Linked DNA regions of Homo sapiens: region 2 is linked to region 1. Evidence: fine-mapped expression QTL. Tissue or cell type: skeletal muscle. Region 1 holds a variant in brackets; the other region holds the start of a gene. All regions are shown on one strand. Distances are between the middles of the regions.

The links. PIP is the estimated chance that this variant, and not a neighbour inherited with it, causes the effect.
Region 2: SACS-AS1 starts here. The variant in region 1 is fine-mapped to the expression of SACS-AS1 in skeletal muscle (GTEx, PIP 0.99).

The regions. Positions count from the first base shown.
Region 1 is chr13:23,301,008-23,309,007 of GRCh38, reverse strand. All of the region lies in intron 6 of SGCG (sarcoglycan gamma), which reads right to left. Among named protein-coding and RNA genes, the nearest start is that of SACS-AS1, 110 kb to the left of the region's middle. The variant G/A (reference allele first, on the strand shown) is at 4,398.
Region 2 is chr13:23,414,231-23,422,230 of GRCh38, reverse strand. SACS-AS1 (SACS antisense RNA 1) reads right to left here and starts at 3,260. Exons shown (of 2, transcript NR_103450.1): 1 at 2,930-3,260. The region is part of intron 1 of SACS (sacsin molecular chaperone); the gene reads left to right.

The DNA of each region.
Region 1 (8,000 bases):
TGTGAATAGAGAGATATACCATATTTATGGACAAGAGACTTCACGATTATAAAGGCATGAATTCAGTGTAATTCCAATAAAAAAAAACCAGGAGAGTTTTTCAAAAAACCTGAAAAATTGATTTTAAAATTTACATGAAAAACAGTCCAGGCATGGTAGTTCACACCTGCAATCCCAGCACTCTGGGAGGCCAACGTGAGTGAATCACTTGAGGTCAGGAGTTTGAAACCAGCCTGGCCAACATGATGAAACCGCGTCTCTACAAAAATACAAAAATTAGCTGGACATGGTGGCATGCACCTGCAATTCCAGCTACTCAGGGCGCTAAGGTGGGAGAATCACTTAAACCCAGGAGGTGGAGGCTGCAGTGAGCTGAGATCATGCCATTGCACTCCAGCCTGGATGACAGAGTGAGACTCTGTCTCAAAAAAAAAAATTACATGAAAAATAAATGTCTAAAAACAGCCAATACAACTCTGAAGAAGACATGGTGGGGACACTTGCCCTAGCAGGTACCAGATGCATTGTACAGCTATTAGGGAGATACTGGTTTAAGAAGAAAAAAGCCAGAACAACAGACGAGAATAGGGCACCCATTAAAAATAGCTTTATATATGACAAAAATAGCATTACGGATAAAGAAGGAATGGACTGACTTTTGAGACAACTGGGTATTCCCACTCAGAAAGCAAAAGAAAATTATTTGCCTACTTCACATCCACATGAAAAATAACTTCTTGTCTGATTAAAGAACTGAATACAAAAACAAAAATGTTTTTGAAAGAACTCATTCCCTCCTTAGTGCCCAAGCAGTGGTTTCTAAAACACCCAAGTTCCTGAAAGTTTATTTTCATAGAATACTACAAGGATAAATTAACTTTCATACTGGCCAAATACTCTCCAGAGAAAGATCAGTGTCTATAAATTCATGATTAACCAGTGAAGCATTCACGATCTTCAGCAATCCACTTCTTGTTAGACTTGACCACAACATAATGTAACATTACACATAGGTGTAATGTTGACATTTATAGAGACCCATATGTGGGTTTTTATTTTTATTTTCTCACTTCTCTACGGAATGTTTTTGTACATAAAAACTTGTGTTTTGGTTTAATAATGAACTATGCAAAGATACTACTGTCTATATGTAGTTGTATTTACACAATAAATGCCTGCATTTTAATAGTTATGTATTTATGATATTCTTTATGATTTATGACAATGATGAGCCTTGAAATTAAAGTATTTCACTTGAATTTATGGAATCCATGCTTTTAAATACAGATATAATTTGATACATTGATATTAATATTATTGCCCTATATTTCTTCTCCCATGCATCTGTACTGACTTCTAATATTTTCTTTGAATTGAATCACCTTTCATTAGAACCTTGAAAAAAACCCATACAGTTCTGTAGAACCTATCTCCTAAAAGATGCATAACAGGGCATAGTTCTAAGTACTGCCCACAGCCAGTGCTGGCACCATCCCACAGTAATCCAAATCACTCCTGGGATTTCATTATTTCTGTAAAGTGTACTTCTGTCTTGAAAAAAGATAACTTTTTTTAACTCACGAAAAATATAAAATACACTTCTAAGCTCATCAAGACTGTACTTCACAGAAAAAAAGACTACTAATATCTGAGGTCTACAAGGGAATGGAATGACACTGCAATGAACAGAAATTTGTGAAAGATTATGTTGCACTATAGAGTAACTAATGTCACTCAGATAAGATGGCTATGATTAAACATCTATGACATACCCAATTCAGTCTTCAGGGGAGTCTCAGACTTTTAATTACTGCAGAAGTCAGTGAACTATAAAAGTTCAGTTTGTCCTTAATACCTCTGTTTCAGTAACTTTGTTTAGTATTTTGCATCTTACTTGTTAATCTTAAAAGGAATTAGAAGCTTCTGTTTGTTAAGAAAAAATACTAAATCTTAAAAAGTTCTGTTTAGCTAAAAGAAAATTAAATCTAATATATTTGTAAGTCCTTCTTGAAAAGGGCAACTTATACATTTACATTTGGAGTATTACTTTTCACATAATGTATTTCACATTCTGGATTTAACAGCACTTTATAGCTCAGGAGCCCAAGATGTCATCAGTGAATTCTTGTATGAGCACTGACTGTGCTCTTCTGTTACTGGATGAAACTTTCAATCCTGAAACTGTTTCCAGTTGTTGAATTGATGATATGTACTTTTTTTTCTGACATTTTGTATTTTTTTCCTTTTTCTTGGAATTGCTAGAATTAAGGAAAATAAGCCACACCATAAGTTGTCAGTTACCAGAAGGAATAAATTGTTTTCATTGTTCAAGTTAAGAAGACTTAAGATATTAACTTGTGACAAATAAAATATACATACTTGGAACTAAGGATGTGATTATGCGAACAGTGTTAGATCACTTCAGTGATCACTTGTATTTATAGACATTGATTTTTATCAATGAGCTGTATAAAACCATGAAAACAACAGGAATTTAAAAATTCCTATGAGACTACTTTCAGACCACTACACAAATACAGTTAAAAACTTAGATTAAGTGAATAATTTCCTAGGGAAATACAGTTGGCCAAAATCAACTCCCATTAAAGTTAGAAAGCTTAAACACAATTTTCCATAAAAGAAGAAATACACTATTAATATTAAAACACTGTCTTTAAAAATTTCATCAGGCCCATATGGTTCCAGAGAAAATTCCATCAAACCTTTAGAGACCAGAACATCCCAATACTCCACAAATTATTCCAGAACATTGAAAATGAGGAAAAACTTCCTAATTATTGAACCAAGAGTAACAGGGTTACTTAAACTTTATAATCATAGCATAGCCAGGCACAGTGGCTGACACCAGTAATCCCAGCACTTTGGGAGGTGAGGTGGGAGGATCACTTGAGGCCGGGAGTTCAAGACCAGACTGGGCAACACAGCAAGACCCTGTCTCACAATAATAATAATAATAATAATTGTAGTGCATTCCTGTAGTCCTAGCTACTTGGAGGCTGAGGTGGGAGAATCGCTTGAACCCTGCAGCTGGAGGCTGCAGTAAGCTGAGATCGTGTTCTTGCACTTTAGCCTGGGCAGGCAGCAGAGCAAGAACAAAAAGAAATGCAGACTAATATGAGTTATGTGTATGATATTTCATGGCCAAAGTAGGATTTATTCTCAGAATGCAAGATTGGTTCAGTATTAGAAAATCCATTAATGTAATACCCCATATTAATATATCTAAGAGACATACATGACTATCTCTGTAATTACTAAAGACTGTCTTACTAAATTCAATACCCATTCAACACAAAATAGAAATTGATATGTGCTTTCTTTATAAAACACACATTCACATCATTTTGGTTAATGGAGAAATACCAGAGGCATTTCCACTTTGACTGGAAAAAGGCAGTGATGCTTACTATCTCCATTTCTTTCTCACATTGCATTGAGGACATTGGGAAATCCAATTAGCCAAGAGAAATTGATTAGAGATATTATACTTGGAAAATAAGGTGTAAAACTATACCTATTTGCAAATGATCTGATAGTATACTTGGAAAATCCCAGTGAATCAATCATCAAATGGATCCAAACCATAAAAGGTTTAGTAAGGTAGTGAGATATAAAATTAACACACAGGAATCAATAGCCTTCATATCTAAAACAGTAACAGGGAATAATGATGATGTAATAAACCTCCTTTTAATAGCAACAAATAAATGTGGAAAACACATATGAAGAAAACTTTTCAATGCTCCTGAGAGGTATAGAAGTAGCTTTGAACAAATGGAAAGACACCCCCTGTTCTTGGGTAGATGACTCAACACAGTAAGTTGTCAGTTTTCCCTAAGGTAATTTAAAAACTTAATATAATCCTAATACAAAATAAGTTTTCTGGAAGTCGACAAGTTAATACTCAAGTTCATGTGCAAAAATACATAACCAAGAATAGGCAGACTAATGTTCAATGATGTACAAAGTCTTGTGTGTGTGTGTGTGTGAGCACGTGCACGCCTGTGAGCACGTGCAAGCCTGTGAGCACGTGCACGCATGTGTGCACAACTAGTCCTACCAGACATTAAAATATCTTCTCTGTAATCCCAGCACTTTGGCAGGCCAAGGCGAGTGGATCATCTGAGGCCAGGAGATCGAGACCAGCCTGGCCAACATGGCAAAACCCGGTCTCTACCAAAAACAAACAAACAAACAAACAAACAAAATACAAAAATTAGCCATGCATGATGGCAGGCTCCTGTAATACCAGCTACTCAGGAGGCTGAGGCAGGAGAATCGCTTGAACCCAGGAGGCAGAGGCTGCAGTGAGCTGGGATCCTGCCACTGCACTCCAGCCTGGGCAACAGAGCAAGACTCCATCCGCTCCCCTCCCC[G/A]CCGCCAAAAAAAAAAAGCCTATTTAGTTAACAGACTCCTTACTGGCTCATGAATGGAGAGACCGGTGCAATAGAATTACAATTGCAGGAACAGCCCCAAGTGTATAGAGACATTTGGTGGTAAAGGTTGTATTTCAAATCACACGGGAAAAAGTAGAGTTTGTAATAAATAATCTAGTTGCTGGCACATCTGGTTGGCCAACTGGAAAAGATAAAATTAGAATTAGACCTCACACCTTATACCTCATACCTCACACAATAATCAACTCTAAGTGGATCAGAGGTCTAATTGTAAAAGATAAAGCCATGCAAGAAACATGTTAAATTCAAACTTAAAATCCAGATACAATAAAAAAGATTAATAAACATGAGTATGTAAGCATTAAAAAGTTTGCACAGCATAAAGTACAATAAGTCAAAAACCAACTGAAGCTGGGAAAAATTATTTAAAACATATATCAGGGATGAAGGGCTAATATTCCCAATATTTAAAGAAGTCTTAAAAATTGAGAGGAAAAGTATTTTTAAAAAGTAGAAAAAGACAAACAATTCACAGAAAGGAATACAAAAATGGCCTTTAAACATATGAAAAGTTGCTCCACCTCACTCATATTAAGAGAAATGTAAACTATAATGAGATGTAATTTCTAATCTATCAGATTGGCAAAATTTAAAATATTTAAAACACATTGTGTTGGGAGCCATGGGGAAAGGAAAATAGAATTTATTGTAACAATGCTAGTGTGCAAATTGGTATACCTCAATGGAGGGGAAAGTCACCGAAAGGGGAATTTGGCATTATCTGAGTAAACAATATGTGCATTTATCTTTTTCACCCATGGATTCCTCTTCCAGGAATTTATCATGGAGCTATATCTCCAACAATATGAAAATTTACCTGCACAAGCACATTGTAAATAAATCAGGTGCCCATATATAGGGGAGCAGTTGAAAAACCTCTGATACGTGCATACCTGGGAACTTGTATGTGATTTCCGGAGCTCTTTCCTGGCATATGCCCTCTTCTCTGATCCTGTGCCCCACAGACTCCATTAGCCTCAACTCCCCACTCTCGGATCTCTTTCTCCTCCACTCCCAGAGGTTCCCGTGCACTGACTGGATTCCCCTTCCCTGTGCCCTGATTCTGAACATGCCTGTGGGCAGAGAGCTCGGGCAAGTGTAGGGCTCACCTCATTAGTTTCTGTCTTGTTTTGCACTTCGTGCTATCCAGTGTCTGAAAGTGGTTGTTTCATATATTTGTCAAGTGTTCTCCTGGTTACCAGAGATGGTGCATCCAGTCCCAGTTACTTCATCAGGGGCAGAAGAGGACTGTTGCCCTGAACTGCCAGGCTGGGAGCTTGCAGGGGTTCCCCTTCCCAGATCCTTTTTAACAATCTCCTTCTCCCACTTTATAAAGAAAGACATGCTCATTGATTCTGAATCGATTATGATGTATTACACTGGGGTAGAAATACTTCCAGGGGTAATGTGCAAGGGAAAATTAAAAAATTGGTGACAGAATTGACAAATTGAATGACTACAGTGATTACGAGGTAATCATTTGGCAAGTTACACAGTTTCTAATTCTTTACTTTCAACAAAAATTGAAGAAAGACCTAATGAATTGTCGCCGATAGTCATTACAAATAACTTTTAATGGTGTATATTTAGGGAAGAGTTCAGAACGTAGAGTGACTTTTTAAAAAATAAAACTTTTTGATTCATACCTACTTACTTATGTGAACAGGCTCCTTGGGACATCTACTTAAAAAACAGGAAAGATATTGATGCCTGATCTTGACTCCTTCTATTAATAAGCTATATTTATTAGCAGATCTATCAAATAGTTTTTAAAAAGTTCCAACCATTCACTAAAAGATGTAGTTTTATACAATTTTACTTTTTGTTACTATCAAAAATCTTAATATATTGATTTTTTCTTTTAAAAATTATTTTTAATTGATATGTAATAAATGAACATATTTATGGAGTACAGAGTGATATTTTGATACATATACACAATATGTAATAATCAAATCAGAGTAATTGGCATATTTATCACTTCAAGCATTTATGATTTCTTTATGTTGGGAACATCTGAAATTCTCTCCTTTAGTTATTTGAAAATATACAATAATGGGAGGAGGAGAGGATAGGGAGGGGCTGGCTAATAGATACAAAATTACAACTTACATAGGAAGAATAAGTTCTAGTGTGCTATAGCACTGTAGGGTGACTACAGCTATACTGTTTTGATCAATTGTTTTCTCCTTAAATTATGACTCTATCCAAAAGAAATTTTAAAAATTCTATAGTCACTAGAAGTAATTATATATATAATTATATAAATATATTTCTTGTGGAGAAATAGGATAGAGTGATCAATGAAATACTGTCAATCACTAAGTAGTGTATATTGGGAAAAAATTTTGGGTAAGTGAACTGTAAGTATTAGGTCAAGGACAAAAAGAAAACTTTTCTGACTCCATAAGAAGAGCTTGTTTGTATGTTTTTCAGTTCTTTGATGGTGGGCATCAAATATCCATGCTTCTTAGATTCCATCCGTACGTTTTAAAAAGTAATGAAAATAATTTTATTTCAAAATGATTTATGTTATTTAAACCATAAAAGGTCATCATTGCTAAACTGACTTGGTAAATATTTCCTTTTATCATCAAGTAGTGTTCCCATTGATTTTTTTTCTTTTCTTTTTTTTTTTGAGATGGAGTCTTGCTCTGTTGCCCAGGCTGGAGTGCAGTGGTGTGATTTCAGCTCACTGCAACCTCTGCCTCCCGGGTTCAAGCGAATTCTTCTACCTCAGCCTCCCAAGTAGCTGGGATTACAAGTGTGCACCACTATGTATGCCTGGCTAATTTTTCTATTTTTAGTAGAGACAGGGTTTCTCCATGTTGGCCAGGCTGGTCTCAAACTCCCGACCTCAGGTAATCCACCCGCCTCGGCCTTCCAAAGTGCTGGGATTACAGGCGTGAGCCACCGCGCCGGACCCCATTGATTCTTATTAATGCTATTTCTTTCCTAATTTTGATTCTGTCTGCTATTAATATCGCGATGCCTACTTTCTTTTGGTTAGCATTTCCCTGAACTTTAGGCTGCTCCAAGCCCCATCTTCACCATTCCCTGGCCCAGCCCTGGGATCAGCCACTTCTCTAAGAAGTCCCGGTTCCTTGGAGAATGGTATGAGAAACAAAGTTCTGGGGGCCAGTGATTTTATTTTAATTACTTCATGTCTCATTTCTATAATTTCTATTTTGTTATTTCCCAAATCTGCCATTTTTCAAAATATCTTGTCTTTGTCTTACATTTCTATTCATTTTTTCCCTCATTTCTATTCATTTTTTTCCTCATTTGAGCATTTTATTTATACTTGTTCTAAAAATCTCTTTGCTTTGCTCTATGACATAACAGTTCCAGGAGATTATTTGTAGCAGCTGCTAATTCTAATTCTTCTCCATGGTAGTTCAATTCCTTTTTTTTGAGATGGAGTCTCGCTCTGTCGCCCAGGCTGGAGTGCAGTGGCGTGGTCTCGGCTCACTGCAAGCTCTGCCTCCTGGGTTCACGCCATTCTCCTGCCTCAGCCTCCTG
Region 2 (8,000 bases), 110 kb before region 1:
CCTCTGAAATCTCATTTGTTAGATTCTATAAAATGTGTTAGGAACTTGTTTAATGAAAAGTTACGTTCCATTCAACAATATAATAAGGTACATCACAAAGCTCCTTTGCACATAACTTTTTTCTAGTTAGTAGCATGTTCATATATAGGCCTAATAACCTCTCAAACGTTGTTACTTAGATACTTAGATAATACACCATAGGTGGACGCCCAGGCCGTAGGTAAATACTAGGCCCCAGGTGGAAACCAGGCCCCAGATGGATATCAGGCATCTCGGTGCATGTCTGTTCCCAAGTTGACACATGGGCCCCCGTTGAACACCAGGCCCCACTTAAACTTCAGGCCTCAAGTGGATGTCCAGGCCCCAGGTAAATACCAGGGCCACAGTGGACAGGAAGCCCCAGGTAGACTACAGGCCCCAGGTGGATGCCTAGGCCCCTGGTGAACACCACGCTCCAGGTAGATACCCTGACCCCAGGGCAACATCCAGTTCCCAGTGGACATCAGGCCGCAGGTGGATGCCCAGTTCCCATGTGGACATCAGTCCCCAGGTCAACATCAGGCCCCAGGTGGACACTGGACTTAAGATGTATATCAGGCACCAGGCTCACATCCGTGCCACAGCAGGACACAATGTCACAGGTGGACAGCCATCCCACAGAGGATACCGAGGACTCAGACGGACGTTCAGGCTCAAGGGGAACATAAGACACTATGTAGGCAACAGGCCTGGGTGCATATCAGACCCCAGGTAAATACTCAGGTTCCAGGAGTACAATAGGCTTGAGGTGGATACCCAGGTCCCTGGTAGATACCCAGTCCCCAGCTGAATGTCAATCCTCATGGGACGGCACACTCCACAGGGAAACTAGGTGCCAAGTAAATGCCTAAACCCCTGGTGAATATCAAGCCCCAGGGGTATACCTAGACCAGAGCTGGACATCTGGCCCCAGCTGGACATCCAGGACCCAGGTGGATATCTACACCTCAGGTTGACATCAGGCCCCTGGAGAACACCAGGTTTCAAATGACCACCAGGCCTCAGGTGGCTATGGAAGCCACAGGTGGATATCAGGTACCACGCTCACACCCAGGGCCCAGGCGGACACAAGGCCCCAGAGGAACAACAGGCCCAAGGTGGACAAAGGCCCTAGGTGCACACCAGGTCCTAGGTGGATACCCACACTTTAGGTGGACACCAGGCCCCAGGCAGACACCAGGTGCCAGGAGGATACCCAGGACTCTGGTGGACATTAGGCTCCTGGTGGACACCAACACCCAAGTGGATGTCAGGCCCCAAGTGGGCACTGAGGCCCCAGGTAAATACCCAGGTCCCTGGTCAAAAACAGGTCCCTGATGGACAATCCGGCCCCAGGTGGACATGAGGCCTCAAGTGGACACTTGACTCCAAATGTCTTGGGTGGACACCACTCCCCAGGTGGATACCTGGGCTCCTGATGAACATCAGGCCTCAGGTTCAATCTAGGTCCCATGTGAACATCCAGGCCCAGGAAGTCCTCAGGCACCGGGAAACACTCAAGCCCCAGGTGGACATCCAGTTCCCGACTGACACCAAGGCCTCAGGTGGACACTAGGCACTAGGAGAACTTCAGGGCCCAGCTGAAATCAAGCCCTGGGTGAATACCCAGGCCCTAGCTAAATACCAGGCCCCAGATTTACATTGGGCCACAGGTGGACATTAGGCCCAAGGTACACACTGGATTCTAGGTAGACTTTAGTCCCCAGATTTACATTGGGCCACAGGTGGACATTAGGCCCAAGGTAGACACTGGATTCTAGGTAGACTTTAGTGCCCAGATTTACATTGGGCCACCGGTGGACATTAGGCCCAAGGTAGACACTGGATTCTAGGTAGACTTTAGTCCCCAGGTTCACAGTCACACCTCAGGAAAATACCAGGCCAGGCCCCAGTTGACTGTCAGACCCCATCTAGACACCAGTCCCCACATAGATAATCTATGCCCCATCTGGACATCAGGTTCCAGGTAAACACCAAGTCCAAGATGAAGAGCAGGCCCCAGTTGGGTATCTAATCCATAGGTGGACATGGGGCACCAGATTGACACACAGGCCCAACGTGGATACCCACACCACAGGTGGACATGAGGCCCCAGGTACATACCCAGTCCCCCGGTGACTATCGGGCCCTAGGTGAACACCAGGTCCCAGATGAACATCAGGACCCAAATGGATACCTAGGTCCCTGGGGAACATCAGGCTCCAGGTGGACACCAAGGACCCATGTGGGCAGCTAGGCCCAGAGTGACATCAGGTTCCATGGGGACACCCAGTCTCCAGGTGGATACTGCGTCCCTAGGGGTACACACCAGTCCTCAGTGACCGAATGGTCACATATTCTCTGGCCAAATGCAATAAAATCACCTCCCCAAAGAATATATATTCTTTAAAACTGAAAACTACATTTCTCAATCATTCTGAAGATAAGGAACTCGCAACAGAATGCTGAACACACACAGAAACGATGAAACTCCCACAACCAACACGAGTGCAATGCTGCTCAACTAGTCCGAGAGCAAGACCCACCACAGGCTTTGCATAGAAGACGCACAGATTCGAATGGAAGAAAATGTGGGACCCGAAATTGCAATATAAGAAAAGAGAAAAAGGCAACCACGCACACCAAGAAATCCAAGAAGTAAAGGGTGACATGGAGACATAACACGCCCGGTTTCCCAAGAAACATTAGGAACCACATTGCGAAATGAAATGGCAGGCCCCATCAAGCCCTGTTGAGACTCTGAACTGCAGGCCTCTCCTAGACGGCCTCTAGGCCTACAAATTGCTAAGGCCACCCTTAACACGTCCTACCCACCTTGTAGAAATTCCCCACCACTAGGAAAAGACACTAAAACCCATGTTGGTCCCGAGCTTACCCTGCCAGAGCTTACCTTGCCGAAGCTTCCCGCAGTCCCTGGGTGCCACTAGCTGGCTCTGTGGCTTCCTTGGAGGGCCTGTGGCCTAGGCCCGGTCCCCTCTCTCAGCTCCCGTGCCTGTCCGCCCATGACCCCAGAGGGACGGGCCCCTGGTTCCCTGGCGGAGCTGCCCTGTCGGCTCACACAGGCGCCGGACGGCCGCGCTCTTGCTCCCAGGCACCAGCCCACTCCCACGGGCAGTCGATTGTGGCACTCTCTGGGGCCCCAAGTCCTGCACCTGCCCCAGATCTTCATGCCCTGAGCAGAGAAGCGAGAACATCTTACTCAGCACCAACTGGGCCAAAATGGCGCCTTCCGCACCACGTGTGCAAGAGGGCAAGTTTCCCGTGGTGGGGGAGGGGGCACAGAAACTCCCCACCTACTCTCCTAGGAAGAGGGCGGCGCCCATGGAGACAAACCCATGGGCACCTTGATAGTCACAAATGCAATGCTAGATCAAAAAATGATATTCTGGTCAGGCACCCTGGCTCAGGTCTCTAACCTCAGCACTTTGGGAGGCTGAGGCAGGGGGATCACTTGAGGTCAGGAGTTTGAGACCACCCTGGCCAACATGGTGAATCCCCTCTCTACTAAAAATACAAAAATTAGCTGGGCTTGGTGGCAGGTGCCTGTAAGCCCAACTACTCAGACAGCTGAGGCAGGCAAATCACTAGAACCCAGGAGGCGGAAGTTGCAGTGAGCAGAGATCAGCCACTGCCCTCCAGCTGGAGAGACAGAGCAAGACTCCATGTAAGGTAAAAAAAAGAAATGGGTGCTATACTGAAGCACTCAAATGTGGAAACATCAGATGAGAATTTATATACAAGGGAAACAAACATATATGTCTAAAAATCTTGTATAATGTTAAGCATATAATTATTAAGGAACAAAAAGCACTTCTGTAGTTGAAAACAGTAAAAATTAAGTTGAACTAAATGTATATTACTATTTCATTACAAGCAGAGATAGTCTTTGTATTATATTTAAATGAAGGTATTATCCATATGAAAGATAAATATAAATTAGAGCCTGTTCCCCAATTTCTGCTTTTCTCTTAGGTTGTTTCTTTTTTTATTTTCAAGAGTTCTTTCTATATTCTGAACACAAAACTTTTGCTGATTGCTGTGTGGCAAATATCTTCTATTTTATATAGCTTGCCTTAGGTGAGCAGAAATTCTTAATTTTAATGTAACTTGAATTTTTTTTTTTTTTTTTTTGAGACAGAATCTTACTCCCAGGCTGGAGTGCAATGATGCAGTCTAAGCTCATTGCAGACTGCCTCCTGGGCTCAAGTGATCCTCCCACCTCAGCCTCCCTAGTAACTGTGACTACAAGTGCGTGCCACCATGCCTGGCTAATTTTTGTATTTTTTGTAGAGATGGGGTTTTGCTGTGTTGCCCAGGTTGGTCTCAAACTCCTGAGCTCAGGGGTTCCGCCTGCCTCAGTGTTCCAAAGTGCTGGGATTACAGGTGTGAGCCACCGCACCCGGCCTTGTAGTTTGATTTTAACAATCCTTTCCTTGAGGGTTACTGCTTTCTATTTGTTTTTAAAGGAATTCTTATTTACCCTGAAGCCATAAAGATATTGTGTTCCACTTCCTTCTAAAATTTTTAAGGTTTGATTTTCTCACTTATGTGCTTAATCATCTAGAATTGATACTTGTGCACAGTATGGGGTTCAGATAAATTTTCGTGCTTGTTTCCATATAGTTAACCACTTGCCCCAGTAACATTTTTGGAATGGCCCAGCTTTCCCCCACTAAACCCTGCTGATACCTCTCTCATGTATCAGGTTCTCATTAATGCAAGGGTCTGTCTCTGAGCCTTTTACTCTCTTTGATTGTTCCCATGCGAATGCCACATAATTATTATGGTTTCATGTTAAAGCTTAATATCTTCTAGAGCAAGTCTTCCCTCTTCTTCTTAAGTAGTGTCTTTGGTTATTGTGTTTTTATTCTGCAAGGTTGCTGGGGTTTTGATTCAAATTGCTTTGAATTACAAGATCAATTTGAGGAGAGTTGACATTTCAATGATATTTAATTTTCTGGTTCATCATGTACATAACTCCATTTTTAAAGGGTCTTTTTAATGTCTTTCATTAAAGTTCATAGATTTTCTTCTTAAAATTCCTATGTAAGTTCTTTCATTATAATTATTCCAAGGTAACATTTTTTTCTTGCTTGATAAATGTCTATCATTAACACATACTTTTCTCTTAAACTCTTGCTGGTATGTAGAAATGCAATTTAACTTATATCAGTAATCTTGAAAAAATCTATTATTAACATTGTCAGTTTGTATGAATTTTTTTGAATACTCTATCCATGAATAGTGATGGTTTTGTTCCCCTCTTCCTTCCCCTCCTCCCTGTTCCTCTTTGTTTTTTCTGTCTTGTTCTGGCTGCCCCCTCCAAAACATGCTGAGTAAAAATAGAGATCAAGAAATATCCTTATCACTGCTAAGCATGAGATTTGCCATTTAATTTGCCCTTTAAAAAAGTTCCCTTCTACTTTTTTTTTTTTTTTAAGATGGAGTTTCTTGTTGCCCAGGCTGGAGTGCAATGGCGCGATCTTGGCTCACTGCAACCTCTGCCTCCCGGGCTCAAGCAATTCCCTTGCCTCAGCCTCCCGAGTAGCTGGGACTACAGACATGCGCCACCACGCCCAGCTAATTTTGTATTTTTAGTAGAGACGGGGTTTCACCAAGTTGGTCAGGCTGGCCTCGAACTCCTGGGCCTAAGTGATCTGGCCTCTGTGGCCTCCCAAAGTGCTAGGATTACAGGCGTGAACCACGGTGCCCGGTTGACTTTTTTTCTTTTACCTTAATCAATCTTCCACAAGTTTGCCAATTTTAGTAGTGTTTTTAAGGAATTAACTTTTATTTTTGCTGATAGTCCCCATTGTATCTTTGTTTTCTCTTTCATTAATTCTGCTCTCATCTTTATTTCCTATTTTCTTTGGGTTTATCCCCAAGACATTTTTTCATGAATTCCTTTTTTGAGATGGAGTCGGCTCTGTCCCCCAGGCTGGAGTGCAGTGGCGTGATCTTGGCTCACTGCAACCTCCGCCTAGTGGGTTCAAGTGATTCTCCTGCCTCAGCCTCCCAAGTAGCTGGGATTACAGGCACACACCACCATGCCCGGCTAATTTTTTGTATTTTTTAGTAGAGACAGGGTTTCACCATGTTTGCCAGGCTGGTCACGAACTCCTGACCTCAGGTGACCTAACAGCCTCAGCCCCCCAGAGTGCTAGGATTACAGACGTGAGCCACCACGCCCGGCCTTTTTCCTAAATTCTTAAAATGGATACTTAACTCATTAATTTTTAGCTTTCCTTCCTTCTGGATGAAATCATTAAAGGATATACATTTTCTCATAAATTTACTGATCTCCATTTTTAATAACAAAGAGCAGGTTAAAGACTTAGTGTTTTCAGCAGGCACTTCGATCAGCATTTAATGAGTCATTTTGTATTCATTTTATTTATCTTTAAAGTTATTCTCTATTTGTGGTACTGGGTTTCCATTTATAGTAGATGGAAAGTTTCTTTTCATAATACATTTATTTAATTAAAATATTTTGGGAAAAATAAATATTAAGTAAAGAATAAATAGATGGTGCACAAGTAGGCCAAAGATCACCAAAGTAGTATGTTGTAGCTCAAAAATGAAAAACAAATTATGAGAGTGATTCATCAAGGGCTGTATTTTGAGAAAAGAATGATCTGGGTAACGGCTGCCTTATCACCTTCACATGTATTGGCTCACAGCATACATAATGATTCAATCATGGTAGGTAATTTCTGACAATTATGGAGAGTATGGCAATTTCCAGGGAGATGAACATGTGTAAACGTTCTAAGTTTCCAGGAAAGGAACAATAGTGTTTGGAATTCTAAATTGTGAGTTAGATGTTAATGGCAGAAGTAGTATTAAAATTAAAAGACTGGGCTGGGTGCAGTGGCTCACACCTGTACTCCCAGCACTTTGGGAAGGCTGAGGTGGGTGGATCACCTGAGGTGAGAAGTTCGAGAGCAGCCTGGCTAACATAGTGAAACCCTGTCTCTACTAAAAATACAAAAATTAGCCAGGCATAGTGGTGCATGCCTGTAGTCCCAGCTACTCGGGAGGCTGAGGTAGGAGAATTGCTTGAACCTGGGAGGCGGAAGTTGCAGTGAGCCAAGATAGTGCCACTGCACTCCAGCCTAGGCAACAGAGCGAGACTCCATCTCAAAAAATAAAAAAAAGAAAAGAAAAATAAAAATGAAATTAAAGACTGGATTATTTGAAAGAGATTGCATTCAGAAGGTGTGAGATGAGGACACAGTGATCTCTGAGACCTAGCATGTGTGTATCAAGGACAAGTCATGTCATGTTTAACCCACTTCCCCCTTATTAATGGATGAGACTATCGGACTGGCCAAGCAGTGTAAGTCAGAAGGAAGACTGCAGCTTGGATTAGTAATACATTGGGCAGAATCATCCTATTCTGTTAGAAATGACAGGAATAAATGTGATTGATAACAGTATATTTATAATGGCTAAGAGAGTTACTGAGGAAATATTATCCAAAGATTGATTTTTGTAATAAATGTATCATTGCCCATGGGGAGTAAAATTTAATAATTTGCCACAGAGCTCTATGCTGTTTAGCAGTGTTATCAAACACGCCTGGTGATATGAAGTTAATTAATATTCTACATTACAGAACATGTATTCTTAAAGATATCCACAAACTGGAATTAGAGATTCAGTGAGGTCGACAAGCATGAATGTGCAGTGTTCCACTGAGATCAATACTGCTCTGATTGCCTTCTGATGTTCCTACAGAGGCCGAGCACTAGTGGCAGATAGCCCTGGAGGTCCTGCTTCCAGTGTAACTAATTCCAGATTTCCCTTGAGTTCTGATCTATCATATAAAACCTGCATGTTTTATATTCATATAAACGTGTTTATATTCATACTTTTTTTTCTTTTTGAGACGGAGTCTGGCTCTGTCACCCAGGCGAGAGTGCAGTGGTGCGATCTCTGCTCACTGTAGGCTCCGCCTT